Linked DNA regions of Homo sapiens: all the other regions are reported to be linked to region 3. The links are microRNA targets in miRTarBase. Many come from high-throughput screens and were not tested one by one. Region 3 holds a microRNA gene; each other region holds the end of a gene's coding sequence.

Region 1 (8,775 bases), not on the chromosome of region 3:
AATGTATGAAGCCCCCACTTAGTTGTATGAAGTCCCCACATAGTTGTCCTTCCTGATGGTTCTGTGCTTTTAGCTATGAAAGCCCTTCTTTTGTTTGTTTGTTTGTTTGTTTGTTTGAGACAGGGTCTCACTCTGCCACCCAGGCTGGAGTGCAGTGGCATGATCACAGCTCACTGCAGCCTCAACCTCCCAAGGCTTAGGTGGTCCTCCTGCCTCAGCCCCCTGCTAAGACTACAGGTGCATGCCACCACACCTGGCTAAGTTTTGTATTTTTAGTAGAGATGGGGTTTTGTCATGTTGCTCAGGCTGGTCTCAAACTCCTGGACTCAAGCAGTCCACCTGCCTCAGCCTCCCAAAGTGTTGGGATTACAGGCGTAAGCCACTGCATCTGGCCACGAAGGCCCTTCTGTTCTCCAGAATCCCACAGTAAGCTGCAGGGTTCTGGGAGTGCTTCCTCACCTGTTGTTGAGCCAGAAACTGACTGCTAATAATGAGCATGTATGGGCAATACAGAGCTGGTGATAGAACTCCTAAAAGGAGGGCTAGATGGAGGCCAGAATTTGAACAGAGGAAAGAGAAAAAAAGCAACCATCTCCTTCCCCACAATGAGTGGTATGGAATCTAGAAAGAGATGAGATATCAGCCATTGAGCTTTCCTCTCATAGAACTCCTAGGTGGTTGCCAGCCCCCATGTCCATTCCTGGTTCTATGGTACATTCACAGGCCTATGCTCTGTCCCTCTTCCCCAGGTCACCATCGTGGTCCTTGGCAACAAGTGTGACTTACAGGAGCAGCGGCGTGTAGACCCAGATGTGGCTCAGCACTGGGCCAAGTCAGAGAAGGTGAAGCTGTGGGAGGTGTCAGTGGCGGACCGGCGCTCCCTCCTGGAGCCCTTTGTCTACTTGGCCAGCAAGATGACGCAACCCCAGAGCAAGTCTGCCTTCCCCCTCAGCCGGAAGAACAAGGGCAGCGGCTCCTTGGATGGCTGAAGAGCTGCCGTTCCTCTTTCACGATCCCAGCCCCATTTCAGTGTCTGGGGCTCTGGTAGATGTGTTGAGGGCAAAGTAGAGGACAAGCTGTCTTTCCCAGTCAGCCAGGGAGCTCCCCGCCAGGCCACGCCCCAGCCACTTTGCTCCCTCTCACCTCTGGGAAGTGCAAATACTCTTGGTTGACATCCCCTTCCTCAGCCCTCCCAGCCTACTCCCCATCCCAGCTTTTAGAGGATCTGCTCCACTGTCTCCTGGGGCAGTTGTGGGTCACTGTCCCTTCCAGCTGCCCCAGACAGGAAGCAGAGTCACCACGCAGCAGTGTCCCTTCTTGGGTCTGAGTTCCTATTATAGGTAGGGGCCCCACCCTCTGGGCTTCCCATCAGCGACACACACACACTTATGGCACCAGCCTGGACTCCAGAAAAAGGGTGTCCAGGTATTGTGTGTATGCATTTAGTTGTGCACACACAAATATGCTCCTATACTGGCATTAGGCGTCTCCTCATCCCTCACCCTGACCTTTCTCCTGTCCTTTTCTTGGCTGGAAGAAGTTGGCCTCCTGGGAGTGTAGTTTTCTGTTTTAAATCCCCCACCCCTGGCTGGGCTCAGTGGCTCACCCCTGTAATCCCAGCACTTTGGGAGGCCAAGGCGGGTCGATTACTTGAGGTCAGGAGTTCACGACCAGCCTGGCCAACATTGTGAAACCCCATCTCTGCCAAAAATACAAAAGTTAGCCGGGCGTAGTGGCACATGCCTGTAATCCCAGCTACCCGGGGAGGCTGAGGCAGGAGAATTGCTTGAACTCAGAAGGCGGAGGCTGCAGTGAGCCGAGATCGTGCCACTGCACTCCAGCCTGGTCAACAGAGCAAGACTCCATCTCGAAGAAAAAAAAAAAAAATTCCCCACCCCTACCAATTGTTTTACTTCCTCTTCCTGCTCAGGGAGCAGATGGGCCTCACTGGTTGAGATGGAATAGAATAACTGGGCTATGAGTCACCAGCCCACTTTGTGACCCAGCAAGACCTTTCCCCTCTCTGGGCATCAGTTTCTCATCTGTAAGATGACCAGAGTTGCTTAGATGATCTCCTAGATCCTTTCCAGTTCTCTTGATTTCGTAAAGCCAATGGCTTCTCCCTCTTTAAGGTGCTATGCCAACCAGCCCTGGAGGCTGGGATCTGCCGCTCCCTCCAGCCACCAGGGGGCAGGAGTGCACTACCTGCTGTCAGTCACCAGAGTGGCCGCTCAGTGCCCAGCCCGCCAGCCTCGCTCTTGGAGGCTGCTCTTTATCCTGCCTGTGGTTTTCAGCTCAGAGCTGGACTTCTATTTATAAGTTACCTGTATTTATATTTATATGCCCGCTCTCATGGTGAAGGCTGGACAAGGTGCTCCTCTGGCCCCTCCTTCTTACCTCAGATGCCTGAACAGAACAAGGCAAACCCGTAGCAGCCTCTCAGGAGCTGACAGGTCCTCTTTCGGGGCTCAGGAGGGTGGGCACACACCCAGCGGCCTGCAGAGTAAGCTTATTACCCACAACTGTGCCCGCTTTGTGCTTCTAAGGTGCACACCTAGCCTAGGTGAGACACTGCAGCCAGGCAACCACCGACACACGCCCCTTCTCAAAGCCAGAGGTGAGTGGGGCAGGTGCCCGGGGCTGGGTGAGTGGAATTAGGACACACACAGGCTTGGGCTTCAAGTTCATTTATTGATGCATTGGTTGGACACAATAAAACCACAATTGTTATCAAAAAGTTTCCCTCCCCTCCCCCTTTTTCTGGTTCTCCCATTGGAAATGTCTTTAAAAAACAAAAAAAAGATACAGGGGGATACTGGCAGGGTCCCATATTGTGGGGTGGGGAGGGGGCAGTGCTGCAGTGGAAAGGAGTTTGTGACATTGACATTGACAGCATGAAAATGGGTCTTGCCAGTGCATGTGAGACTGCCTCCCAACACTCAGCTTCACAGTGGCAGGGGCTGGTTGGGAGAAGGGAAAGCTGAATTTAGTGCTAGGACCAGTTTGGAGTGGGAAGCTGTAGGGGAAAGCTCTTCCTTTGGGAGCTCTGCGGGGGGTTCGGTGTTAGCTGAGTCCATAGTCTGAGGGAGACCCACACCCGCCCTCCAAGAGTTGGGGTTCAGGAAGTCAGAGAAAGGCTAAGAAGAAGAGCTTCTGAGGGATGAGTTACTCCCTCAATATTAAGACTGGGCTTATCAGCAAGTATCACTTGAACCAGGGAGGCAGAGGCTGCATGCAGTGAGCCAAGATTGCACCACTGCACTCTAACCTGGGCAACAGAATGATACTCTCAGACAGAAAAAAAGACTGGGCCCATGAATGCCCAGAAGACTTAAGATTAAAACAAAACCCTGGGCCCAACCAGAACATCACCTCCTCTCTTAGTCCCACCCCTTCAGAGCAGATGAAGCCCCCAAAAGCTTTCAGAACCAGCCCCACTACCTCCTTGGCTCTGCCCCACCTTAGCACTGCTGATCGAAGGACTTTTGGGTCCCCCTTTCTCCTCCATGGTCCTCTGTCACACTCCCATGGTCACCTTGTCCTGACAGCCTTGAGCCTGCTGCAGCTAGAGACCCCATCCCTATCTCCAGTGAAGCCCCAAAGCCTAGGAATAGAGGTCAGAGAGTCGTCCCCTGGCTAGGAGAGGATGGCTTGTAGAAGCTAAGATTCCTAGAGTCTGGCCATGTGGGTCTTGGGTGGAGGAAAGTGAGAGCACCACATGGCTGGGGCTGAGATTTTGCATAGATCTTTGGGGTCTGTCAGGGTGGGAAATGCAGGCAAGCCTAGGATTAACCCTGGAAGGCCTGCGAAAGGAGGGTGGGGACAGTCCTTGGAAGGCAGCTGCCCTTAAAACTAGCCCAGCTCTTTCTGGATCGGGCAGGACCCCTGAAGCTGTTCACAGTCCCTGTGGCATGTAGGAAACCAAGGTGTCTCAGGACAGGAGGAGACAAGGAGTGGCTATTGGGAAATCAGCTCTGGCCTCCCCATGAGGGCTAATAAGGGGCAAGGACGATAGGTCCTGTGGCAGGGCGGACAGCTCCTGCTGGGGTGCGAAACAGAGCTGGGCCCAGGATGGGAGCCGGGAAGAGGGTAGTGGCTGCTGTAGGGGCAGGGCGGAGGGCCAGGGGCCCTGGCAGAGCACAGATGGCAGTGGCTGCGGTGGGGAGCGGGCTGGGCAGGAAGCGGGCTGCCAACGTCTTGGTGAGTTGCTTCTGCAAGGCCAGTTTAGACTACACGGAAAAGAAAGGAATGGACACAGTCTCCACCCCAGAAAACCCCACCCCCTCCCTGGGGCCCATCCTCAAGCTTTTTGCTGCAGGGAAAGCGTGCCTTTTAGAGTTCCAAACCTAAATCCTCCTCCCTTCCCACCCCCAAACATTCATTCCGAAGGGCTTTCTCCACCACCTGTCTTCCTGTCCAGAGGGAGGAAAGTCTCAGCATGGGAGAAGGGAGGAGGATTTACGGGATAGAGATGGTCTCTAGGAGATGCACGCCCACCCCTCACTCTTGCCCCTAAGATGACTATCCCAACCCACCTCCCCGGAAATTCCTCTGCGCAGATCCCAGTTCCCAGGCCTAGCTCTGTCACTGCCCAGCAGCCTCATTGCAGGGTGGCCTCTTTTCCTGCCCCACCGCAGCCCCCCCATCTGGCCCTCCCAGCCCACCCTCTCCCCTCCTGACCCAGTCCCAGCTCTGTTGCCTGGAGACAGATACCTTGAGGATACTCACAGCCAGCGCTGCGTGCTTCTGCAGCTTGCTGTGCTGGCTGGAGGGCTTGGGGGTCTTCCCGGCCAGGCGGTCTTTGTGCCTCCTGCTGCTCATGTGCTAATGGACAGACAGACAGACTGGGAACAAGATGACAAAGCCCAAGGACCCCAAGACCATCATCCTCGACTCTTCCCCTTCCTCTATCCACAGCTCATACATCCAAAGCACACAGACTGGGTCCTCACCCTGGGGTAGGCCCTGGGAAGGGGAGGTGAGTCTTGGCCTTTGCCCTTAATTGGCCCACTGGCCTGCTGGCCTCGCTTCTCCAGCCTGCTCTGCTGTGCCCTGCCTGCTCTCTTCAGGGTCCCTCCCTCTGCTGCCCTGCCCCCCAACCCCCTCCCCTGGCTCCAACCCCAGTCACAGCCTCACTTCTCCCACCTGCTTCAGTTGGGTCTCTGAATTGACCTGGAGCTGACAGAGAGCACAGTGGAAGGCAGGGCTGGGCCCCTGCCGGCCGCCCCGGCCCCCTGTGACTCTCTTGGCTTTGTGTCCGGCACCTCCCCTGGACACCGGGCGGCCCCGGCTCCTCCGGGGAGCCCCTCGCTGACCTTCCATCATCCACCGGTGCTTGGCTCCTGGAGAGGGAAGAAGGCAGTCTCTCAGCAGCAGGAAGGGGTTGCAGGGGCCACAGAGACCCCCTCCACACTCATGCAATTTGGCTCTCCCTGTAAGCCTCACGGCTGCTCTGTGCACACATCGCCCTCCAGCCACACGTGGTTTCCCCTCCCAGCTTCTGTCCTTTCATGCCAGCCCCTCCTATGAAAGGCCTTTCTGCACTACAAATAGCTGCCTTCCCCTTTGCTTTGATCTCAGTCCTTTCCTTCTGGGTGTAATCTAAGGAGAGAGGCAGATGTCTCCTGTCTCCTGTGGAGTGACCCTTCAGAGATTTAGCGACCTTCAGTTCTTGCTGCCTCAGACTTCTCTTCCCAATTCTCCTTCCCCAAGGAGTAATGGGAGGACCCAGAAACGTCCGTTCAGTAACACACAAGCACAAAGCCTCCGCCATCCAACCCTTGAGCGAAGCACCCAGGAACTCAAGCCTGCCCTCATCTGGCGAGGCTTAGCTTCTGTCCCACCCTTTCCCTGGGCTCCAGCTCCTGGGACTACTGACCTGTGTTGTGAGCCTGAAGCTGGGAGGCCGAGTTCACTGTCACCTTACACGTGGGGCAGTAGAGGTGCCCCTTCTCACTCCTGCCTTCCCCACTCATGCTGCTTCCCACGGCAGCTGCCGCTGGCTCAGGCCCCGGTGCCTCTCTCCCAGGCTCTGGGGAGCAAGGTGGGCAGGAGGAAGAAGAGGATGAGGAGGCAGCATCCAAGAGCTCTGAGTGGGCTGGCTCCCTGCATGTAGGGTCTGGAGTTGGTGGTGGCTGGAGTGGAGGCCCAAGAGGAGGGGCTGCAGGAACTGCTGCAGAGATGGAAGAGTGTGAGACCCAAGATGACGCTGCAGACCACGATCTTCAGCTCTGACCATGGAGGTGGCCTGGAGGGCCCCTGGTGGATGACCAGCACTGAATTCCAGGCCCCACTTTTCTACCAACTCACTGGGCAGACTTGGGCCTCAGTTTCCCCATCTGAAATCATTAAGTTGGACACAGTGGTCTCAGAAAGCCCTCACAGCCCTCATATCCTTATTTGCTAACTTAAACAGAGATCACCAAAAAAGATGTACTAGAATGTTCAGAGAACACTATTCATAATATCATAAAACTGAAACTACCCACATGTCCACCAACAGGAGAGCAGATTTTTAAAAAACAATGGTGCGGGCTGGATACGGTGGCTCATGTCTGTAATCCGAGCACTTTGGGAGGCCGAGGCAGGTGGATCACCTAAGGTCAGGAGTTCGAGACTGGCCTGGCCAACATGGTGAAACCCTATCTCTACTAAAAATACAGAATTAGGCGTGGTGGCACATGCCTATAATCCCAGCTACTCGGGAGGCTGAGGCAGGAGAATCGCTTGAACCTGCAAGGTGGAGGTTACAGTGAACTGAGATCACACCACTGCACTCCAGCCTGGGCGACAGAGTGAAACGCCATCTCAAAAACAAACAAACAAACAAAAAAAACACAGTGGTATGGGCCAGACGCAGTGGCTCACGCCTGTGATCCCAACACTTTGGGAGGCCAAGGTTAGCAGATCACTTGAGTCCAGGACTTCGAGACCAGACTGGGTGACACAGCGAAACACCATCTGTACTAAAAATACAAAAATTAGCCAGGCATGGTGGCACATGCCTATAGTTCCAACTACTTGGGAGGCTGAGGCAGGAGAATCGCTTGAGAGCCAGGGAGGTGGATGAGCCTAGGTCACACCACTGCACTCCAGCCTGGGTGACAGAGCCAGACCCTGTCTCAAAAAAAAAAAGAGCTTTTAAGAATTTAAATTAAAAAAAAATAGTGGTATGATCCACGGTGGAGTACTACACAGCAATGAAAGAGAACAAACTACAGCTACACGCAAAAACATGGATGAATCTTACAGATATAATGAATGTTGATGAATGTTTGTGAGAGATGAATAAAAACTAGATACCGGCCAGGCAGGGTGGCTCACGCCTGTAATCCCAGCACTTTGGGAGGCCGAGGTGGGTGGATCACAAGGTCAGGAGTTCGAGACCAGCCTGGCCAATATGGTGAAACCCCGTTTCTACTAAAAATACAAAAATTAGCTGGACGTGGTGGCAGGTACCTGTAGTCCCAGCTACTTGGAAGGCTGAGGTAGGAGAATGGCTTGAACCCAGGAAGCAGAGGTTGCAGTGAGCCAAGATTGCACCGCTGTGCTCCAGCCTGGGAGACAGAGCGAGACTCTGTCTCAAAAAACAAACAAACAAAACAAAAAAAACCCACAAAACAAAACAGATACAAAAAAACCCCTGCACACTCTATGTTTCACCAAAAATAGGTAAAGCTGATCTATGCTGAGAAAAGTCAGGATCGTATTTACCATCAGAGGGGTTGTAGTTAGTTGAATAGTGTCTCCCCCAAAATTCACATCTATCTGGAACCTCAGAATGTGACCTTATTTGGAAACAGGGTCTTTGAAGATAAAATTAGTTAAGATGAGGTCATGCTGGGTTCGGGTGGGATTGATCTAGTGACTGGTACCCTTATAAAAAGAGCTTGTGGAAACACAGGGACACACAAGGGAGAATGTGGAGATGGAGGTGGAGATTGGAGTGATGCGTCTATAAGCCAAGGAGTGCCAAGGAATACTGGCAGCCACCAAAGGCCAGAAGAGAAGCATGGGACACTTTCTCCTCTAAGCCCCCAAGAAGGAACCAATGCTGTCAACGCCTTGATTTCAGACTTCTGGCCTCCAGAGCTGTGTGAAAATAAATTTTTGTTGTTTTCAGTCACCCAGGTTGTAGTCTCTTTTTTTGGGGGTGGGGGTGGGCAGGGGAGGTTAGAGACAAGGTTTTGCTCTGTCACCCATAGCTCACTGCAGCCTCGACCTCCTGGGCTTAAGCAGATCCTCCTGCTTCAGCCTCCTGAGTAGCTGGGACTACAGGTGTGCATCATCATGCCTGGCAAATAAATTTTTTGTAGAGACAGGGTCACACCATGTTTCCCAGACTGGTCTCAAACTCCAGGCTTAAAGCAATCCTCCCGCCTCAGCCTCCCAAAGTGTTAACCATCACAACATGTGAGCCACCATTCCTAACTTCACAAATGAAGTCATTTGTGAAGGCAGCCCTTGGAAATGAATACTTCAAGGTAATGACCAGGAGGAGGTGCAAGACAAGCTTCTGAGGTGCTGGTAACGTGTTTCCTGATCTGGGTGTGTTCAGCTTAGGAAAATTCATGGCGTGGTACACTTGTGTGCCTTTGCCTGTCTGTATGGAATACTCCAACACAAGCAAAAAGAATAAGCAGAAATCTCTCAACCCCTTGTCGGAAACCAGATTTGGAGTGGAGACGTGGGAAAGAGAAGAGCTCAGGACTGACCTTTACTCTGTGGCTCTCCAGGGGCTCCACTGGCCAGCGTTGGGATTGGGGACACTACAGC
Region 2 (8,734 bases), not on the chromosome of region 3:
TCCAGTTAGGAGGCTGGGACCGCAGCCCAGGTGAGCTAAGAGGAGGGCTGGGCCTAGGCCACAGCTGCCGGGACCCCGAGGAGGGGCCCATCCAAGACATAATACAAGCTTCTTGGGGGCAGATAAGCCGCTGGGGCTCCTGGCTCAGGCAGCCTGCAATACCCTCCACCGAACCAGTGAGTGCCGCAGAAGAGGGAGAGGAGGAGTAGGGAGAGGAAGCTGGTGGCAGGTGGCACCTCCGGGGCCGGCAGGCAGGCAAGCACTCCAGGCCGACTCCGCCTCTGGCTTAACCCCTGTCTCAGGGCAGCCCAGGCGCCTCCCTGGAGAGGGCAGGTGCCCGGGCCTTTCCCTCCCGGTTTCCTGTGAGACACCCCCATCCCCTCATCTCACCTCTATCACCACCCCCAGGCACTTGCTGGTTTGAGGCTCTCGAGGGGCTGAGGGGGGCAGGCCCTGAGTGCAGCATGGGTTGGCCCAGCTGTGCCCAGGGCCTCTTCCCCCTCCCCAGAGCTGCCCTGGGGGGCAAAGCCTAGTCTCCTGAGGCCCCAGTGCCTCCCTGACTAGTCCCCCTGTGTTTCTTCCCCCTGCTGCAGATGGCGGTGGGACCCCCCGACTGCCCTGTGGGAGGGCCGCTGACCTTCCCTGGCCGGGGTTCTGGGGCTGGGGTCGGGACAACCCTGACCCCCCTCCCACCCCCTAAGATGCCCCCCCCCACGATCCTGAGCACGGTCCCTCGGCAGATGTTCAGCGATGCAGGTAGCGGGGACGATGCCTTGGATGGAGACGATGACCTGGTGATCGACATCCCGGAGTGACCGTGACATCACGCCATGCCCACCACGGCCCCGCCCGGCGCCCTCCCCGTGCCAGCACACACGAGTCCAGCTTCCTCGGAGGTGTTTATTGATGCCCAGCTGCCATGCTCCGGCCACTGACACAACCAGAAAAGGCGTAAACATGCACGGGTGTCCCCCAGGAGGGTGGCAGGGGCCCTGCCTTCAAACCCCGGCCCCCTCCAGGGGACAGTTATTTAAACGAGTGGCCGGGAGCATCTGCCACCTGCTGGGGAGGCAGAGACCCTGCAATGGCCACCTCTTTAAAAGGGCAGCTGTACAGGGCTAGGTTTTTTCAATGAAGTTTCTGTATTAAAGGAGTGGCTCTGGGTTTGTTTTTTGTCCTTTTTTTTTGAGACATTCTCCTCCTCTGAACCTCCCCTAATCCGACCTCCTCCCTGTTGGGGGAGAGGGACGGGGCAGCGTGGAGAGGCAGGAGTGAGGAGCGCGGGGGCCTGGGGCCGGGCTCTGAGCACTGCCCGGGTGTGCAGATGATGGGGGGTTTGCATATTTGCAGGGACTAGCGAGTCAGGCAGGAGGTTTGCATATGTGAATATAGAACTCCGCAGCCCCTCATGAGCAGACAGACCCGGGTCACGGAGACTCACAAAAATAGGTAGTGCAGGGTGGGGGCAGCCCACCCTGTGTAAACGTGCAACACACTCGTGCGAAGGTTGGGTACTGGACCCGGCTCGATGGGCCTGTGCCGGGACACTGCTGTCCACTCAGGCTGAGGACAGAGCCCCGGCCGCAGGGGGCAGCTCACTGGTCAGGGTGTGCCAGCGCTCCAGGGCTGCGTCCGGCTGCTGCAGGCAGTCACTCCAGTGCTTCCGAGCCTCGCCTCGGGCACCTGGCCCCAGGGACACGCCACCTGGGGAGCAGGTGGGCAGGGTCAGGGCCACCTCCCTGCCACTTGCCCGCCCTCAACACCCGCAGCCAGCTCCTCCCTCACCAATGAAGTCATTGGATTTGCCAATGTCATAGTCCCAGACGGTGACTTCCAGGGTCTTGGTGGCCAGAGTGGAGAGCTCTATCTCGTAGAAAAACTCCTAGGGACAAGGCCGGCCACCCGTTCGTGAGCCAGCTCCCCAGCCCCTCCCTGGCCTCCCTCCATGTCCCGTCCCCTCCTGGGTACCTCGTTAAATTCTGGGTTGAGAGTCTTCTTCTTCACACACGTCTTATGCTTGGATTTCTTGTCCACATCGGGCCTCAGGTACCTGGGGGTGGGGTGGAGGGAGACGAACTGAGGGGTGAGGGACAGGCCAGGCCCAACTCAGGCCAGGGCAGGCTCCCTGGGGAGGAGAGGGTCAGAGCAAGGGCTCACGTCTTGACGTAGGGGTCCGAGTAACCGTTGACGTCCATGGCAGCCAGATGGGCGCAGCGCAAGATGCCTACCAGCAGTCCCCGGCGCCGCGAGCTGTAGCTGAGACTCAGCAGGATGCGGCCACGCTCCTCCAGCAGCCCCTGCCCCTGCTCCGCCTGCTCCAACTGCGGGGCACAGACTCAGGGTCAGCCTGGGCCCCTGCAGCCTCCCACCCACATGCATCCCCATCCCCATGAGGTGCCTCACCTCCTTCAGATAACAGGAGATGCCCCTCAGCGCCGCTGACATGGAAGAGGGGGACGCCAGCTGAGGGGGCAAAGAGAAGGTTCTGGAAGCCTGGCCTCCCCAGGGCCCCCTCCCCTGGCGCCCCTGCAGCCCCCACACAGACCGGGACCTGGCGCTCGAGGCAGATGTTAAAATGCTTCTTCTGCGAAGGCTTGAGGCGGCGGAGGGGCACGCGGATCTCCCCAATAAACTCATTGTGACTCAGCTTGTCCTCATCACAGACGGCGATCCTGGTCGGGAACTGCAGTGTCAGGGCCCCTGGGGTACCTGAGCCCCGTTCCGGGGTGTAGGAAGGGCCTTGGACCAGCCCAGCTCTGCCCTAAACACTACGTCTCATCTGGAAGACAGGCTGGCACTTGAGAAGGACAAGCAGATTTGCCCATTCCTCTGTCCCTCCCTCTGCAGCCACCCGGCTGTCCCTGGTCCATCAGGACATGCTCAGCCATTGTGGGAAGCCCTCAGAAATCTTGGAGCACGCTGCTCACTGCCTCCATTCAGGGCCTGGGGGCAGGAGCCGAACACCACGGTGGATGTGGCCATAGACACAGGCCGTGAGAGCTAGAAGGGCCTTGGAGCCTTGGGCAGCCAGACCAGTACCCCACGCCTCCTCGGGAACCCCCGTCCTTTTCCTGCATGCAGCAGAGAGCCAGCCCCGCAGGGACTCACTAAGAAATGATTGCTTTCCAGCCACCTGTCCTCCTGCAGTCCCTGCCCTGCCTCCGCAGTGACCCACTACCAGGCTGGGCATCTGTGGCATGGAGGATGGGCAGATCCCAGCCCTGCCACTTCTGAGCCACCTGTGTGACCTTGGGCAAGTCACTTGATCACCCTATGCCTCAATTCCCATCTGTAAATGGAGATAGTCAAGGGAAAGAAAGAAATGTGAAAATGCTAAGCCTGGGCTGGGCCCTGGTGAGCGCTCATTTTTTGGTCTCATTCTGGTTTTGGCCTCTGGCCTCCCCTCCATTCCACCCGAATAGCTGAAACCAAGGTGGCCTCTCTGCTGCACAGCCCTGACCATCAGGGAAGGTCCCAGCTGCAAATCCAAGCACAAAGGCAGAGGTCTCTCCAGAGCCTGGGTTTCGCTGCCCGCCACCTGACTTGAGGGAGTACTCTCCCTACATCTCCATCTCCTAGGATGACGGAGCAAGTTCCCTGTCCCTGAAGACTTCACTCCTTAAGAGATTTTAGGGGAACTCAAGGCACGGAAGGGGCAGACCAAAGCTGCAGAGGTCTGGCTTAAGCCAAGGGCTCTGAGAAGGGGTCTCGGCAACCCAGGAACGTTTTTGGGAGGGGGCAGAGCTTGGACTGAACCTCAGATGAGCGGAATTTAGGCTGGCAGGAAGGAGCTTTCCAGATAGAAAACAACAGGAAAAGTTCAGGAGTTGTGGAACTGGCCAGTTGGAAGAAGGGAGTCCTCTGTTTGAGGGGCAGAAGATACTTTTGTTTTGTTTTTGAGATGGAGTCTCCATCACCCAGGCTGGAGTGCAGTGGTGCGATCTCGGCTCACTGCAACCTCTGCCTCCCGGGTTCAAGTGATCCTCCTGCCTCAGCCTCTCGAGTAGCTGGGATTTACAGGTACATGCCACCACGCCCGGCTAATTTTTGTATTTTTAGTAGAGACGGGGGTTTCACCAAGTTGGCCAGGCTGGTCTTGAACTCCTGACCTCAAGTGATCCGCCCACCTCGGCCTCCCAAAGTGCTGGGATTACAGGTGTGAGCCACCACACCTGGCAGGCAGGAGATATTGAGGGGCAGGAATGGCAGGGAAGAATTTTGGCCTGCTGCCAAAGGGGCTAGGGAGCCGCTGATGGTTCTTGAGCATCAGAGAGGTACGGGCTTAATGGGACATAGATCAACCAACCAGCGGTTACAATGTCAGCTGTCCCCGAGCTGCTGCTGGGTGGTGGGGAGGGGGGCCCTCACCTGAGCACCTTGTGCGTGATGTCGTCATCTGTGATCCCGCTGTAAGTCAGGTCCTCATTCCACACGGGATTCAGTGTGTTCCTCTGAGTCTTCGTTTTTAGCTTATTGGCCTGGGATGTGGGGATGAAAGGTTCTCAATACCTGTCCTCCAGCCCCACAGGCTGGAGTCATGGGCTGGGCCGGGCGGGGCGAGAGGAGGCTGTTACCTTACAGGCTCCAGGCAGCAAGTGCAGCTTGACGTAGGGGTCGGCGAGGCCATTGAAATCCATGGGCTTGAGGCCCTGGAGAGGAGGGCAGGGGAGAGGGCTAGAGGCTCCCGGCACCTCTCTCCATCCCTCTTGTAGAGCTGGACCCTGGAGGAGCCCAGAAGGAGGGGGCAAGGGCAGGACGAAGGAGCAGGCCTGGGAAGGGAAGGAGGAATGGGCCCCCTCTGGGGGCTGCACGCAAACCGGGCCCGGGCTTGGGTGGCAGGGAGTGCCCACCTTGGCCCTGAGGATGCTACAGTGCAGAGTGCAGGAGGCCCGGTCGTAGAGAAGGTCAAACTCCAGCGTGCCTAGGGCGGCTGGAGAGAGAGGAAAGGCAGCATGGGTCGGTATGGAGACAGGTGTGTGCGAGAGGCCAGCAGGTGGGCACTGGCTCTGTGTGTCTCTCTCTCTTGCCAGCCCGCGAGTGTGAGTGCAAGAGGCTGAGTGGGCCCATGCGTGTGTGCGTCTGGGTCCCTGGCTCGGCCGCAACTGGGGCTGTGTGGGTGGTGGAGTGTCTCAGCAGAAATACTGAATATTGAGCCTTGCTGAAGCTGTAATCTCCACGCTGACTGCAGCTGTGGTGGCCGTCCCTGCCACCCCCCCACTGCCCTCCTCCCCTACCTACATGCACAGCCAGCAGGGCCCATCCCCCTCTCCCCCCACCACGGCAAGCCTGGAGACCCCCACCAGCACATGGGGCCTCCAAGCCCCCAGACTCACTGGCATCATCCGAGTCATAGCTGTCCACCTCCGCACCATCCTCAGGCGTGGTGGCCCCAAGGAGGGCTGCAGGGGGGGCCAGAGCCAGGGGGACCAGATGGGCGGGGGCCTCCCCGCCGCCCCCGCCGCCCCCTTCAGGTCCTGGTCCCCGGGGGAAGTAGTCAGAGATCTGGCGGATGGGCCGGATGGGCCCGGGGCACACGTTGATGGCCATGTGCTCCTGGATGTTGATGGTCATGCGATCGCCCCTGCGGCCCCTCATGCAGCACCCCTGGCTAGGAGAGGGCGTGTGAGCCAGTGAGCCCATCATACCTAGCCATCCTGGCTGAGGGCCAGGCGACGGCCTCCTCGGTCTGTGGGGCCCTCACTGGCCTCCCTTCCTAGGTGTCGAGGGAGAGGGTGGTGTGTGCCAGCCGGTGGCAGGTGGGAGGCCTGGGCCCTGCAGACCCCAAGCTGACTCCACAGGGGCTGGGCTGCCAACCCACTCCTTGCAGAAGTCGAGGTTGCACCACCCCGTCCTCACCCACCCACTTCTAGGTTGTCCCTGTATCATCTTGCCAGCTCCTTCCTCTCCTCCGGGGCTCCCCTCTGCTCCTGAGCCTGCCTGTCCCCCAAGGGGCCCTGCAGGGCCCCGCCTCTGTTTCTCGGAGGCTCTGTCCTCCTCTGCACCAGGCGCTGGTCTAGTCAGGGTGTCACCCACCCCTCTAGGCTCCAACTGCCCACTGTCCCCTCATTCAGCCCCAGGACCTGTCTGCCTGCCTGGTTCCCCCGCTCGCTCACCACAGCCCACGGTGGAGACCCCAGCCTCAGATGCCACCTCTGGCTCCTCAGGGGAGCCAGAAATTGCAGCCGCAGGAGAGCCGAACACCCCCGTAGCGCACACAGGCTGGCACGCTTCCCCGCACCCTCACGCCCCCGGCCTGCCCAGCCCCCTGCACCTGCCTCTGCCTCCAACAGGTGCCCAGGCACTGGGGGGACGGCGGGCGCAGGCTGGGCGGCGGCGGCCGGCGAGGAGAGCGCGGAGTCGAGCTGTGCGAGCCGAGAGGGAGGGAGCGCCGAGAAAGTGCGGGGAGGAGGGGGTGAGCGAGGTGGAGGCGAGGATGCAGCCGGCGCGGCGGCGGGGGACGGGGAGGGGCGCTGGGGCTGGGGAGGGGGCGGGATCTCGGACTCCCACCCGGGGCCCGCTCGGGAGCGCACGCGAGCGCGCACACACACGTGTGCTCGCGCGCGCACACTCACGCAGGGGCACGCGGACCGGCACACACTCGTGTGCACACATCCAACCGGGCACCCCCGCGCGCACACGCCCGTGCCCACGTGTGCACGCTCACACCCTTGCACACACCCAGGCGCGCGCTGGCACACTTACCCGGAGAACTTCGCACACACACGCACTCGCAAACACGCGGGCTCCCTGCGCCACCAGGAAGCAGCCGCCAGAATCGCCGGGTGTTCCCCAACTACTCCTGGGAGACCTGGCCCCCCGCCCCCGCCCGCGCGCGCGGCCACGGCGCCTCCCTCCCTCCCGGGTCCCCAAGGCCGGACCACCGGCCTCGTTGTCATGGCGACGCCGGCTCATCTCCCCCCACCCCCGCGCGTCTTCACGCCCCTCCCCCGCAGGGAGCTGGGGCCTCCCTCCTCCCTTCCCCACGTCCGTAGGGACCCACAGGTTGACAGGAGCAGGGGGTCGCCTGCTGTCACCGGCCGGGGATCTCGGGGTCTCCCGAGCCAGGCTGGGGAGCCTCACGATCTGAGGGAGGAGGCAGAGGTCTGATGCTGCGGCTTCCCCCACGCCCCCTCCCTTTGGCCGTTCAGGCCTCTCTCCTTGTGGCCCAACCCAACTCCCAGGGGCCCATGTCCCCTTACCAGGGATGGTATCTCCTTTGGGAACCACCCTCCCCCCTGCCATCCCCAGTTCTGCCCCGCAGGTGGGAAGGGGCGTCGGGGCTTGGCTCTGAAGGTCTCAGAGCCCTGCGGTAGTTCCCCATGGGCTGCCATTTCTCACCCAAACCTTGCCACCCCCAAGCCGCCCCCCTGCCCGGCCCTGCGCCTGCCACGGAGTGTCAGTCCACCCCTGGCCTTCGGTCTTCACTCACCTGTGCCCCAAACTTACCATCCCGAAGACACGAAGGGGCTTATCACCCTCGCTGCCCACCACTGACTCACCCAACCGTTTCCTGCAGTTCCTGGGACACACCTAGACGGCTCAGGCCTAGGGATCTTGGCTCACATGCGCTCCTCTACCTGGGAACCGCGCTTCCTTAGGAAGTCACCGTGGGTCCCCTCTTCCTAGGAGCCTTCCTGGGGCATCCCGCACTGCCCCTCAGCTCCAGCGCCGTCAGGACTCGGCTCAGCACCGCTTCGCCAGTGCCTCCCCCACCAGCAGGGAGTTCCACTGGAGCGGCTGATTCATCTGGGAGTCCCTAATGTCCCAAACTGGGCCTGGCACGAAGTCGGCATCTCTAAGTGCTGTTATTTAAAACAGCAATCTGGTTGCACGACAACTGAACATACCTAACACCACCTAATCTTACCCTTAAAAATGGTGAAGATGGTACATTTCGATATGCGTATTTCACGGCAATTTTTTTTTTTTTAAATAAGAGAAATGGGGCCGAGAGTGGTGGCGGGTGCCTGTAATCCTAGCTACTCCAGGGACTGCGGCGAGAGGATCGCTTGAGTGAAGCCAGCCTGGGCAACACAGTGAGACACAGTCTCTTAAAAAAAAAAAAAAAAAAAAGTAAGAGAAATGTAAAGTCAACAACACTGAGGGGGCGGGGCGCAGTGGCTCACGCCTGTAATCCCAGCGCTTTGGGAGGCCGAGGTGGGTGGATCACCTGAGGTCAGGAGTTTGAGACTAGCCTGGCCAACATGGTGAAACCCCATCTCTGCTAAAAATGCCGGGCGTGGTGGTATGTGTCTTGGGAGGCTGAGGCAGGAGGATCGCTTGAACCCGGGAGGCGGAGGTTGCAGTGAGCTGAGATCGTGCCACTGCACTCCAGCCTGGGCTGTAAGAGCAAAACTCAGTCTCAAAACAAACAAACAAACAAACAAACAAAAAACCCTGAGATATCACTTATTACCCATAAAATGGGCAAAGCCAAAGTGTCTGGGCTGGGGGGAAGCTGAGACGGACTGATCCCTTGAGCTCAGAAGTTCAAGACCAGCCTGGGCAACATGGTGAGGCCCTGTCTCTACAAAAAAAAAAAAAAAAAAAAAAAAAAAATCCAGGCATAGTGGTGTGTGCCTGTGGTCCCAGCTACTCAAGAGGCTGAGGTGGGAGGATCTCTCTTCTTTTTTTTTCTTTTCTTTTTTTTTTTTTTGAGATGGAGTCTCGCTCTGTCGCCCAGGCTGGAGTGCAGTGGCGTGATCTCGGCTCACTGCAAGCTCCACCTCCCAGG
Region 3 (9,550 bases):
ATTTATTTAGAGACAGAGTCTGGCTCTGTCACCCAGGCTGGAGTGCAGTGGTGCAATCTCGGCTCACTGCAACCTTTGCCTCCTGGGTTCAAGCGATTCTCCTGCCTCACCCCCACAAAGTAGCTGGGATTACAGGCACCCCCCACCACACCCGGCTAATTTTTGTATTTTAGTAGAGACAGGGTTTCACCGTGTTGGCCAAGTGGGTCTGGAGCTCCTGACCTCAGGTGATCCGCCCTCCTCACCCTCCCAAAGTGCAGGGATTACAGGCATGAGCTGCCACGCCCGGCCAATTCAGCAAATTTATGTGGGATTCCACCTAGAACTCCAAACCAAGGTGCTCTGAATATGTATTGGTAGTATAAACAGAATCCACAGCCCTATCCTGGATTATAAGCTCGTTAGGGAGGTAGCAAAATACATGACACTGACCTAAGAACACATGAAAAGCAAAGAAACATGAATGCAAAGTCATGTCATATAAGCTGTTTAAATCCTGAGTAAGATGAATTTAATTTGCATCTATCCTACTGACCTATAATCCGTGACTCACTTGTCTCTCTCCTCCAGTAGACATGACTAGGCATGACCCATATAGTACTGAACTTTGTATTCCCAGCACCTTACCAAAGTAGGTGCTGGGAATACAAAGAGGAGACACCCCACAAATGTTAAATAAAACACTTAATGAATGGTTCTAGGTAGGTGGGGTTGATCAAGGAATTATCTTACAAGTGGTATGGGTTTTTTGGTTTTTTCTGAGGTGCAGTCTCACCATGTTGCCCAGGTGATTCTCCTGACTCAGCCTCCCAAGTAGCTGGGATTACAGGCACTAATTTTTGTATTTTAGTAGAGACAGAGTTTCACCATGTTGGCCAGGTGGGTCTCGAGCTCCTGGCCTCAGGTGGTCCACCTGCCTCTGCCTCCCAAAGTGCTGGGATTACAGGTGTGAGCCACCGCGCCCAACCTAGTCTTTTTATAGAACAGTTATCTCTGTAGCCAAACTTACATCATATTATTTAATTTTCCTTGATTCGGGGGAGGGGGGAGGGATAGCATTAGGAGATATACCTAATGCTAAATGACGAGTTAATGGGTGCAGCACACCAACATGGCACATGTATACATATGTAACAAACCTCCATGTTGTGCATATGTACCTTAAAACTTAAAGTATAATAAAATAAAAGATTTACATAAAACATTTTTCCTTGATTCTGTATTAAAGGAAAGATGACATTATTTTCAATGTCTGCAAAATATTTCACTGATGGGCATTTAGAGTGTTTCCATTTCCCGCTATCATAGATACTGCTTTAATGAATATTTTTTGTTTATAAATAGTTTTCTTTTTTTGTGTGTGGATATAGAATCTTGCTTTGTTGCCCAGGCTGGAGTGCAGTGGCACAATCTCGGCTCACTGCAACCTCTGCCTCCCGGATTCAAGCAATTCTCCTGCCTCAGCCTCCCGAGTAGCTGGGACTACAGGCGCACGCCGCCACGCCCAGCCGATTTCTTTTGTTCAGGCTGGTCTTGAACTCCTGAGCTCAGGCAATCCGCCTGCCTCGACCTCCCAAAGTGCTAGGATTATAGGCGTGAGGCACCCCGCCTGACCTATAAATATTTTTCTAAGAACATTTCCTTAGGCTATATTCCTAAACATGGAATTATTGGGAACATTTTTATTTTTCTATTTTTTTTCATCTCTTCAGTATTCAAAACATTCCTAAATTCTGGCCGGGTGCGGTGGCTCACGCCTGTAATCCCAGCACTTTGGGAGGCCGAGGCGGGCAGATCACGAGGTCAGGAGATCAAAGCCATCCTGGCTAACATGGTGAAACCCCAACTCTACTAAAAATACAAAAACAAAATTAGCTGGGCGTGGTGGCGGGCACCTGTAGTCCCAGCTACTTGGGAGGCTAAGGCAGGAGAATGCCATGAACCTGGGAGGTGGAGCTTGCAGCAAGCTGAGATCAGGCCACTGCACTCCAGCCTGGGCGACAGAGCGAGACTCCATCTCAAAAAAAAAAAAAATCTTAAATTTCTATATAAGTTGTCAAACTATTTTTTCCAGTTTAATCAACTTACACTTCTACCAGCAGTATGAGAGCTTTTATCCCACTGCACAGTCACATAGGAAAAATGGTTTATGTAAAGGACCTCTCTTCTGTTATTTAATACCCATGAATTTCTTATATAGTTGTAATCAGCGAACCCATACTACTTTGGGTTCTGCTTATTTCACGGGGAAGGATTCTATATCTATCAATATAGTTCACATTCTAGCCATTTAAAATCATTCTTTAATTCTTCATTGTGTTAACAGATCCCAATAAGCTTGGCGATTTTCTTATTGTCAGGACTCGGGTTTATTTCCAGTTTTTGCTATTAAATTGGCTATTTCTGCATCTTTGCACAGTCTCCCCTACTTTACCAAGAGTGAAACTGCTTGATCAAAGAATAGAAAATGTTTTGTAGCTCGCATTAGACACTGCCAAGTTGTTGGGCAAGGTTTTTAAAAAAGGAATATTGGCTGTACAGAGGTGCAGCTGTGTGGACCATCATTCCTGAGCAGGGTCCAATAGCCTGGCATCTTACCTGGAAGTCAGGACATCTAAACTTCCCTATGGGAACTTGGTAAGCCCCTTCCCCATTTCGAACCTCAATTTTCTTATCTATAAAATGAAGAATTTGGATGGAATGAATTAATCCTTTTCTACCAGAAATCTAGCCATATTTCACCTAGTCTATTCTGTATCACCCTCTCCTGACTCCTACGTGCTCAGAATCTAGCTCAGTGCTTGGGACAGTTATGTTTCCTTTCCCTTTGAAGTGCCCAAATACCAGTGTAATGAGAAATATGGCAGAGCCTGAGAGTTCAGAGCACAGGCCAGGGTCAAATCTCAGCCCTCCACTTACAAGCTGTGTGACAAAATAACCTCCCCCGGGCTCAGTTTCTTCACTGTAAATTAGGTTAATTGTTCCAACCTCATAGGGTTGTTAGGAGAATTAAATGAGTTAAGGTTTGCAAAACGCTAAGAACAGTGCCTGGCACACAGTAAGTGCTTTATAAAGTGTTTGTTGAATAAATAAAATTTTGGACCTAAACTCTGGGTCTCTTCAGGACTGCAACAGCTTTGTAACTGGCAACCCCACTTTTAGGTGCGTTCCCACTCCTCTAAAACCCAGAGATCTAAATGCCAAATCTCTCTGCTTAAAAAGTCTCCCAGGGCTCCTAGGCGCCTCCAGGCTAGAACAGAAATGCCTCAGCTTGAAGACCCAGGCTTTTCAGGTGAAACACCTAAGGGTCAGGAGACGCTAGGATCATCACTCAAGGATCCCAGTGAATTTTTCCAAAATACAATAAAAATAAAAACAAAAAGAGGCAAACAGGGTTATAAAAATTGTGGGGCATTTTAAATGTTTCATTGAACAAATTAAAGCATTAACAGCCCTCCCCCAACCACCACCAAGCCCAAGAGACCGTAAATATGCTGTTCACAAGATAACTGCAACTTTCAAGGGCTCTCAGGCTGCTACTTCGGGCAGCACAATTGGCGGCACGACGTGGCAAGCAGGCAGTAGTTTCCAACCCTGGAGGGTCAGCGTCTGGAGACCCCGGCCAAGGCATCCACAGCCTAAAGATGATGTCCGCGACCGCCCGGGCAGCCTCGTGCACGGAAAAACCTCAACCCCGGCCCCGCCCACCCTTCCTGCGGCCACCCCGCAGCCCTGGCCCCTCAGTCCATTCACTCCTGCAGCGCGGCCCCGCACCCAGGGCCTGCACTAGAACCGCTGTTCCTACCGCGGCGCCCCCTGGGAGCCAACGCCGCGATGCCCGCCTGACGTCAGGAAGTCGAATCCGGCGGCGACGCCTTTAGGGAGCCCGCGAGGGGGCGCGTGTTGGCAGCCCAGCTGTGAGTTGCCCAAGACCCACCGGGGGACGGGATCTCGCTCCCCGCGCCACGAGGCTCGGCCAATGGGAACGCGCGCTGCGAGGCCCGCCGGTCTGCCCTGCGGTGCTGAAAACCCGGCGCGCAGGCGGCTGGCTCTGGGCGCGCGCCAGCAAATCCACTCCTGGAGCCCGCGGACCCCGAGCACGCGCCTGACAGCCCCTGCTGGCCCGGCGCGCGGCGTCGCCAGGCCAGCTATGGCCCCCGACCCGGTGGCCGCCGAGACCGCGGCTCAGGGACCTACCCCGCGCTACTTCACCTGGGACGAGGTGGCCCAGCGCTCAGGGTGCGAGGAGCGGTGGCTAGTGATCGACCGTAAGGTGTACAACATCAGCGAGTTCACCCGCCGGCATCCAGGGGGCTCCCGGGTCATCAGCCACTACGCCGGGCAGGATGCCACGGTGAGCGCAGCCAGGCGGGGGCACAGGAGAGGGCGGGACCGGAGGCTGAGTGCAGGGGAGACAGAGTTACGCACTCCGAGCCAAACACCGACTAATTCGGAGGAAAGCCCGGAGGCGCCTGATCATACCTGTTGCCCGGTGATTGGGTGTCCTGCGGATGCGGGATGAAAAGGCGGGAGAGAGGCCTGGAGAAGTGGAGTCTGGGGAGTGGGGATGGAGGCCAACAACACGCACACACAAACAAAGGGTCCCGCCTCCCTGCCGTGCATTCCATCTGCAGCCCCGAGCCTCAGGTCTCTGGGCGGGGACAGAACCCCGAGCTGGGTAGGCTAGGAGGGAGGAGAGCAAGGATGCAGGCCGCCTGGGGAGGGAGGGGGTCAGTGGCCAGGGGAGGGAGTCACATCCTGTCTCGATGGCTAGGAGAGGCAGCGCAGCCGCGTCTGGACCTAGGTGCCGGTCTCCACTCGCCAGCAGGAGCGGAGAGGGAGCAGGAAAGGAGCCCATTCTCGAGGATGGGGCTGAAACGGGAAGCTTGGGGAGACCGCTGCCTTGGGGACCCCTGCGTCGTGTGAAGACTGGAGGACGCGGAAGGGACAGCGCTGGCCGGGGAGGGCAAGCGGCCGCTGGCGTACATAAGGGATTGGGAATGGCATACACTTAGCGAGGACCCCCAGAGCTGTTCTCGAATCGCCGGGGAGGCCACTGAGCCGCAGGCCAGCGAGGTCTTCAGCTATTCCGCGGAGCGGACCGCTGTTTACGCTCTGGGGCGGTAGGCCCTTCGCGGGGTCCTGTCCCTTCTTCCCTTGGTCTCACTGCGGGGTCGGCGCGCGCCCCAGCCCCAGGCCTGCTGCTTCCCTTTCTAGACCACAGCCCTCAGAGCTAAGGCCCCGGCGCCTCTCTGCTGGGTTGGAGTCCTGGGGACTCAGTCCTAGGGACTCGAAAGTCGGGGCGTTCCCTTCACCGCGTTTCCCCCTTGGCGGCCAGAATGGCGTCCCCTCCCCTTGCATCCCCCTCTGATCCCGTGCCCTGCAGCGTGATGCCCTCCACTGTCCCTATCCACTACCCTGGCGTCCCAGAGTGTGCCGCGGGTCACCAGGTTCCCATAACGTCGCAGCAGAGCTTAGACGCTGCGGGGCGAAGACCCGCCCCACCCTCTGACGCGACCAGCCTAGTGGGCGAGGCCAGAGCTTGCGCGGGTCAACCAGAGTGACCACTCGGGAGCCCTGACTGCGGCCAAGGGCGCAGGCGTGTCCCGGCGCATGCGCAGACGAAACAGGCACCAACGCTGGAGCTTCCCGCAGTGTGATTTGGGGCCGGGAATGCCGCGGCGGGGACGGCGATTGGTCCGTATGTGTGGTGCCACCGGCCGCCGGCTCCGCCCCGGCCCCCGCCCCACACGCCGCATCACTTACAGGGCCCGGGGCTGCCGGACCTGCCAACGTGAATCTTATCGCCATGGACCTTACCTTGCACAACCCAAAGTAGCTGCCTTGGGGCAGGGGGTGGCCAGAGTGCTTAGGGAAATGTGGAGCCCTACCCAGAACAACGGTGGAGGGAAAGGGAAGAAACGCAGAAGTGCCCCAGTTCGGACGTAGGGAAGTCTTCCTCTTCGTGGTTTTTGGAGAACCCTAGCTAAGAGAGGAAAGGGACTTATTGAAAGACCCGCAAGAAGGGACGGAAGTCTCATAGCCCTGAGAGGTGAAGCCAGCTGGAGTTGATGGGTCGAATGGGGACCTAGAGAACTTTTCTGTATCTAGAGGTTTGTAAAATGCACCAATCAGTGCTCTGTAAAAACGCACCAATTGGCGCTCTGTAGCTAGCTAGAGGTTTGTAAAATGAGCCAATCAGCAGGACGTGGGCAGGGACAACTAAGACAATAAAAGCTGGCCACCCCAGCCAGCTGCTGCAACCCGCTCCAGTTCCCTTACAGGCTGTGGAAGCATTGTTCTTTTGCTCGTCACACTAAACCTTGCTGCTGCTCATTCTTTGGGTCTGCAAAGAGTGTTATTCCTTTAAGAGCTATAACAGCGGGAAGGTCCACGGCTCCATTCTTGAAGTCAGTGAGACCATACCCGCCGGAAGGAACCAACGCCCGACACAGCCCCACCCATCTCTCCTGTTTCTCACCTATACTGAAATTCTTGGGCAAAAGCTGTCTGTGGACACACCCAGGGGAAAGGCCAGCCCAGGCAGGTGTTTCTTAGTGGTTCCCCTCAGCCAATGCTTCCCATTCCTTGATGCATCCTTCTAACTAGAGCAGATACTCGGTGATCTTAAACTGTGGACACCTGGGAGCACCCTCAAAAGGCAGCTGGGCCTAGGGAGATGGCCTGTGCTTCTGTGTCAGGAGTTGGTTCCTTCAGGTGGGCTCGTGGTCTCGCTGACGTCAAGAATGAAGCCATGAACCTTCGCGGTGAGTGTTACAGCTCTTACAGGTGGCGTGGACCCAAAGAGTGAGCAGCAGCAAGATTTATTGTGAAGAGCAAAGAACAAAGCTTCCACAGCGTGGAAGGGTACCCGAGCAGGTTGCCGCTGCTGGACGTTGGGGGGTGTGAGGGGGAGCAGCCTTTTTTTTTTTTTTTTTTTTTGAGACGGAGTCTCCCTGTCGCCCAGGCTGGAGTGCAGTGGCGCGATCTCGGCTCACTGCAGGCTCCGCCCTCCCCCGGGGTTCACGCCATTCTCCTGCCTCAGCCTCCCGAGTAGCTGGGACTACAGGCGCCCGCTACCTCGCCCGGCTAATTTTTTGTATTTTTAGTAGAGACGGGGTTTCACTGTGTTAGCCAGGATGGTCTCGATCTCCTGACCTCGTGATCCACCCGCCTTGGCCTCCCAAAGTGCTGGGATTACAGGCGTGAGCCACCGCGCCCGGCCGGGAGCAGCTTTTATTCCCTTATTTGTCCCTGCCCATGTCCTGCTGATTTGTCCATTTTATAGAGCACTGATTGGTCCATTTTACAGGGTGCTGATTGGTCCATTTTACCTCTAGCTAGCTAAAGAGCACGGATTGGTGCATTTTACAAACCTCTAGCTACAGAAAAGTTCTCCAAGTCTGCACTCGACCCAGGAAGTCCATCTGGCTTCACCTCTCACTTCAACTTGGGTACAGCCTTCTGGCGGGCAGGAGGATGGCCTTTGGTGCGAACACTGCCGGAGTCCAGGGGGCTGGCTCCCTCACCTTTCATCTTCTCCCGGCACTTGCAGGATCCCTTTGTGGCCTTCCACATCAACAAGGGCCTTGTGAAGAAGTATATGAACTCTCTCCTGATTGGAGAACTGTCTCCAGAGCAGCCCAGCTTTGAGCCCACCAAGAATGTAAGACCCTGTGTTTGCTATGTCGCAACTATTGGTTGTTGAGGGGGACAGAGAGGGGGTGGAAGGAGAGTCTAGATGGGATCACAGTCATAGTAATCACAGTCAGTAGTAGCTCTGGGGAGTCTTGAGGTCCCTGCTTCTCTTGCATAGTCATGAGGTCACAGGCCCAAGGGAGCATGGCTTTGCAACCTATGGCTCCCCCAAGGCTGCCACTACCATGGCTGCCATCATTGTTATCATCATTGTTATCATATGAGCACTTACTATGCACCAAGCATAAACTCATAACTCTTACACATTTACAGATGAGATAACAGGCTCAGGGAGGTTAAGCAACACAGCCAAGGATCACACAGTTAGTAAATGGCAGAGCAAGGACTTAGTCCCCTGAACTCTTAGGCACTATCCCATGGCACCTCCTCCTGTCATCCTCATTGTCGTGGTATCTTTGCCTAGGACTGTGGACTTCCCACAGCTACCTCAGTGGGAGGTCCTTGAGCCTGAGAGGGCCCTTGTCTCCAGTAGCATTGGGGTGCAGATGAGAAGAATAACAGCTCCTCTTCCTCTTCTGCAGAAAGAGCTGACAGATGAGTTCCGGGAGCTGCGGGCCACAGTGGAGCGGATGGGGCTCATGAAGGCCAACCATGTCTTCTTCCTGCTGTACCTGCTGCACATCTTGCTGCTGGATGGTGCAGCCTGGCTCACCCTTTGGGTCTTTGGGACGTCCTTTTTGCCCTTCCTCCTCTGTGCGGTGCTGCTCAGTGCAGTTCAGGTGAGAGCCTTTGGCTTGTCAAGTGCACAGCAATGCTCAGCATCCCTGGGGAAAGCTCCTTGGGTGTTTGAGGAAGGCCAAGAGTGCCTGCCCTCCAAGCAGGGCAGATCTGAAGGTATGCAGGAGTGAGTGCAGGAACATGCATTCTGCTGTCTTGACCTGTCTGCTCTTTAGCCACATGGACATCTTCATTTCTCTCACTGCCTTTTTAGCTGCTTCTCCAAGGGTTCTCTTCTTCCTATGCGGTTTGTTCTCTGCCACAGCCCACCTGTGCCAGGAGCCAAGTTTCTGGTTTCTTAGCAAAGCTTGGCTCCCTCCCCACCACTGACATTGCCCAATATGTTAATAATGATTGAGCGCTAATTCTTGACTGTCAGGACCCATTTGGCAAGCCTTCTGCTCATGTTTCAGTCCTTTCTGTATTCTAGATGTCAGTCCATCATAAGTCATGAGCTTCAGGCCAGGTGTGGTGACTCATGTCTGTAATCCTAGCACTTTGGGAGGCCAAGGTGGCCGGATCACTTGATCTCAGTTCAAGACCAGCCTGGCCAACGTGGTGAAACCTCTACTAAAAATACAAAAAGGCCAGGCACAGTGGCTCACGCCTGTAATACCAGTACCTTGGGAGGCCAAGATGGGCAGATCATTTGAGGTGAGGAGTTCAAGACCACCTGGCCAACATGGTGAAACCCCGTCTCTATTAAAATACAACAGTTAGCTGGGAGTGGTGGTGGGTGCCTGTAATCCCAGCTACATGGGAGGCTGAGGCAGGAGAATTGCTTGAACCTGGGAAGCGAAGGTTGCAGTGAGCCGAGTTGGCACCATTGCACTCCAGCCTGGGCAACAGAGCGACACTCTCAAAACAGGCCAGGTATGGTGGCTCACGCCTGTTATCCCAGCAGTTTGGGAGGCCAAGGTGGGCAGATCACCTGAGGTCAGGAGTTCGAGACCAGCCTGGCTAACATGGTGAAACCTCGACTCTTACTAAAAATACAAAAAAATCAGCCAGGCTTGGTGGCGGGCACCTGTAATCCCAGCTACTTGGGAGGCTGAGGCAGGAGAATTACTTGAACCCAGGAGGCGGAGGTTGCAGTGATCTGAAACCGCACCAT

Evidence for each region. The annotated mature microRNA hsa-miR-1908-5p reads CGGCGGGGACGGCGAUUGGUC and lies in region 3 at 5,680-5,700, shown strand. An mRNA with a match to its seed (bases 2 to 7 or 8) in the 3' UTR can be bound and repressed. Matches are read on the target gene's strand: a 7mer-m8 pairs with bases 2 to 8, a 7mer-A1 pairs with bases 2 to 7 and ends in A, and an 8mer does both.
Region 1: the mRNA of NKIRAS2 is a reported target of hsa-miR-1908-5p. Seed matches in the 3' UTR shown: 8mer at 1,104-1,111 and 7mer-A1 at 2,243-2,249.
Region 2: miRTarBase lists INO80E as a target of hsa-miR-1908-5p. Seed matches in the 3' UTR shown: 7mer-m8 at 844-850.

What each region holds. Positions count from the first base shown.
Region 1 is chr17:42,022,905-42,031,679 of GRCh38, forward strand. It overlaps NKIRAS2 (NFKB inhibitor interacting Ras like 2), which reads left to right. Exons shown (of 4, transcript NM_017595.6): 4 at 750-2,737. The coding sequence ends at 989. It overlaps ZNF385C (zinc finger protein 385C), which reads right to left. Exons shown (of 9, transcript NM_001392013.1): 5 at 8,715-8,775; 6 at 5,879-6,169; 7 at 5,146-5,342; 8 at 4,714-4,824; 9 at 2,672-4,229. The coding sequence ends at 3,993. Among named protein-coding and RNA genes, the nearest start is that of NKIRAS2, 7.2 kb to the left of the region's middle. RefSeq lists enhancers at 2,033-2,082, 5,853-6,641.
Region 2 is chr16:30,004,628-30,013,361 of GRCh38, forward strand. It overlaps INO80E (INO80 complex subunit E), which reads left to right. Exons shown (of 7, transcript NM_173618.3): 7 at 594-1,164. The coding sequence ends at 815. It overlaps DOC2A (double C2 domain alpha), which reads right to left and starts at 6,400. Exons shown (of 11, transcript NM_003586.3): 1 at 6,276-6,400; 2 at 5,334-5,608; 3 at 4,851-4,930; 4 at 4,575-4,649; 5 at 4,369-4,478; 6 at 2,546-2,672; 7 at 2,404-2,463; 8 at 2,158-2,321; 9 at 1,969-2,050; 10 at 1,786-1,882; 11 at 887-1,704. The coding sequence starts at 5,595. The coding sequence ends at 1,559. RefSeq lists a silencer at 6,307-6,366.
Region 3 is chr11:61,811,359-61,820,908 of GRCh38, reverse strand. MIR1908 (microRNA 1908) reads left to right here and starts at 5,669; the gene lies at 5,669-5,748. It overlaps FADS1 (fatty acid desaturase 1), which reads left to right and starts at 3,906. Exons shown (of 12, transcript NM_013402.7): 1 at 3,906-4,354; 2 at 7,556-7,666; 3 at 8,241-8,438. The coding sequence starts at 3,980. LOC124902680 (a long non-coding RNA gene) reads right to left here and starts at 2,889. Exons shown (of 2, transcript XR_007062696.1): 1 at 1-2,889. It also overlaps a transcript of FADS2 not described here. RefSeq lists silencers at 3,545-3,644, 3,985-4,184, 5,705-5,824 and an enhancer at 4,705-5,602.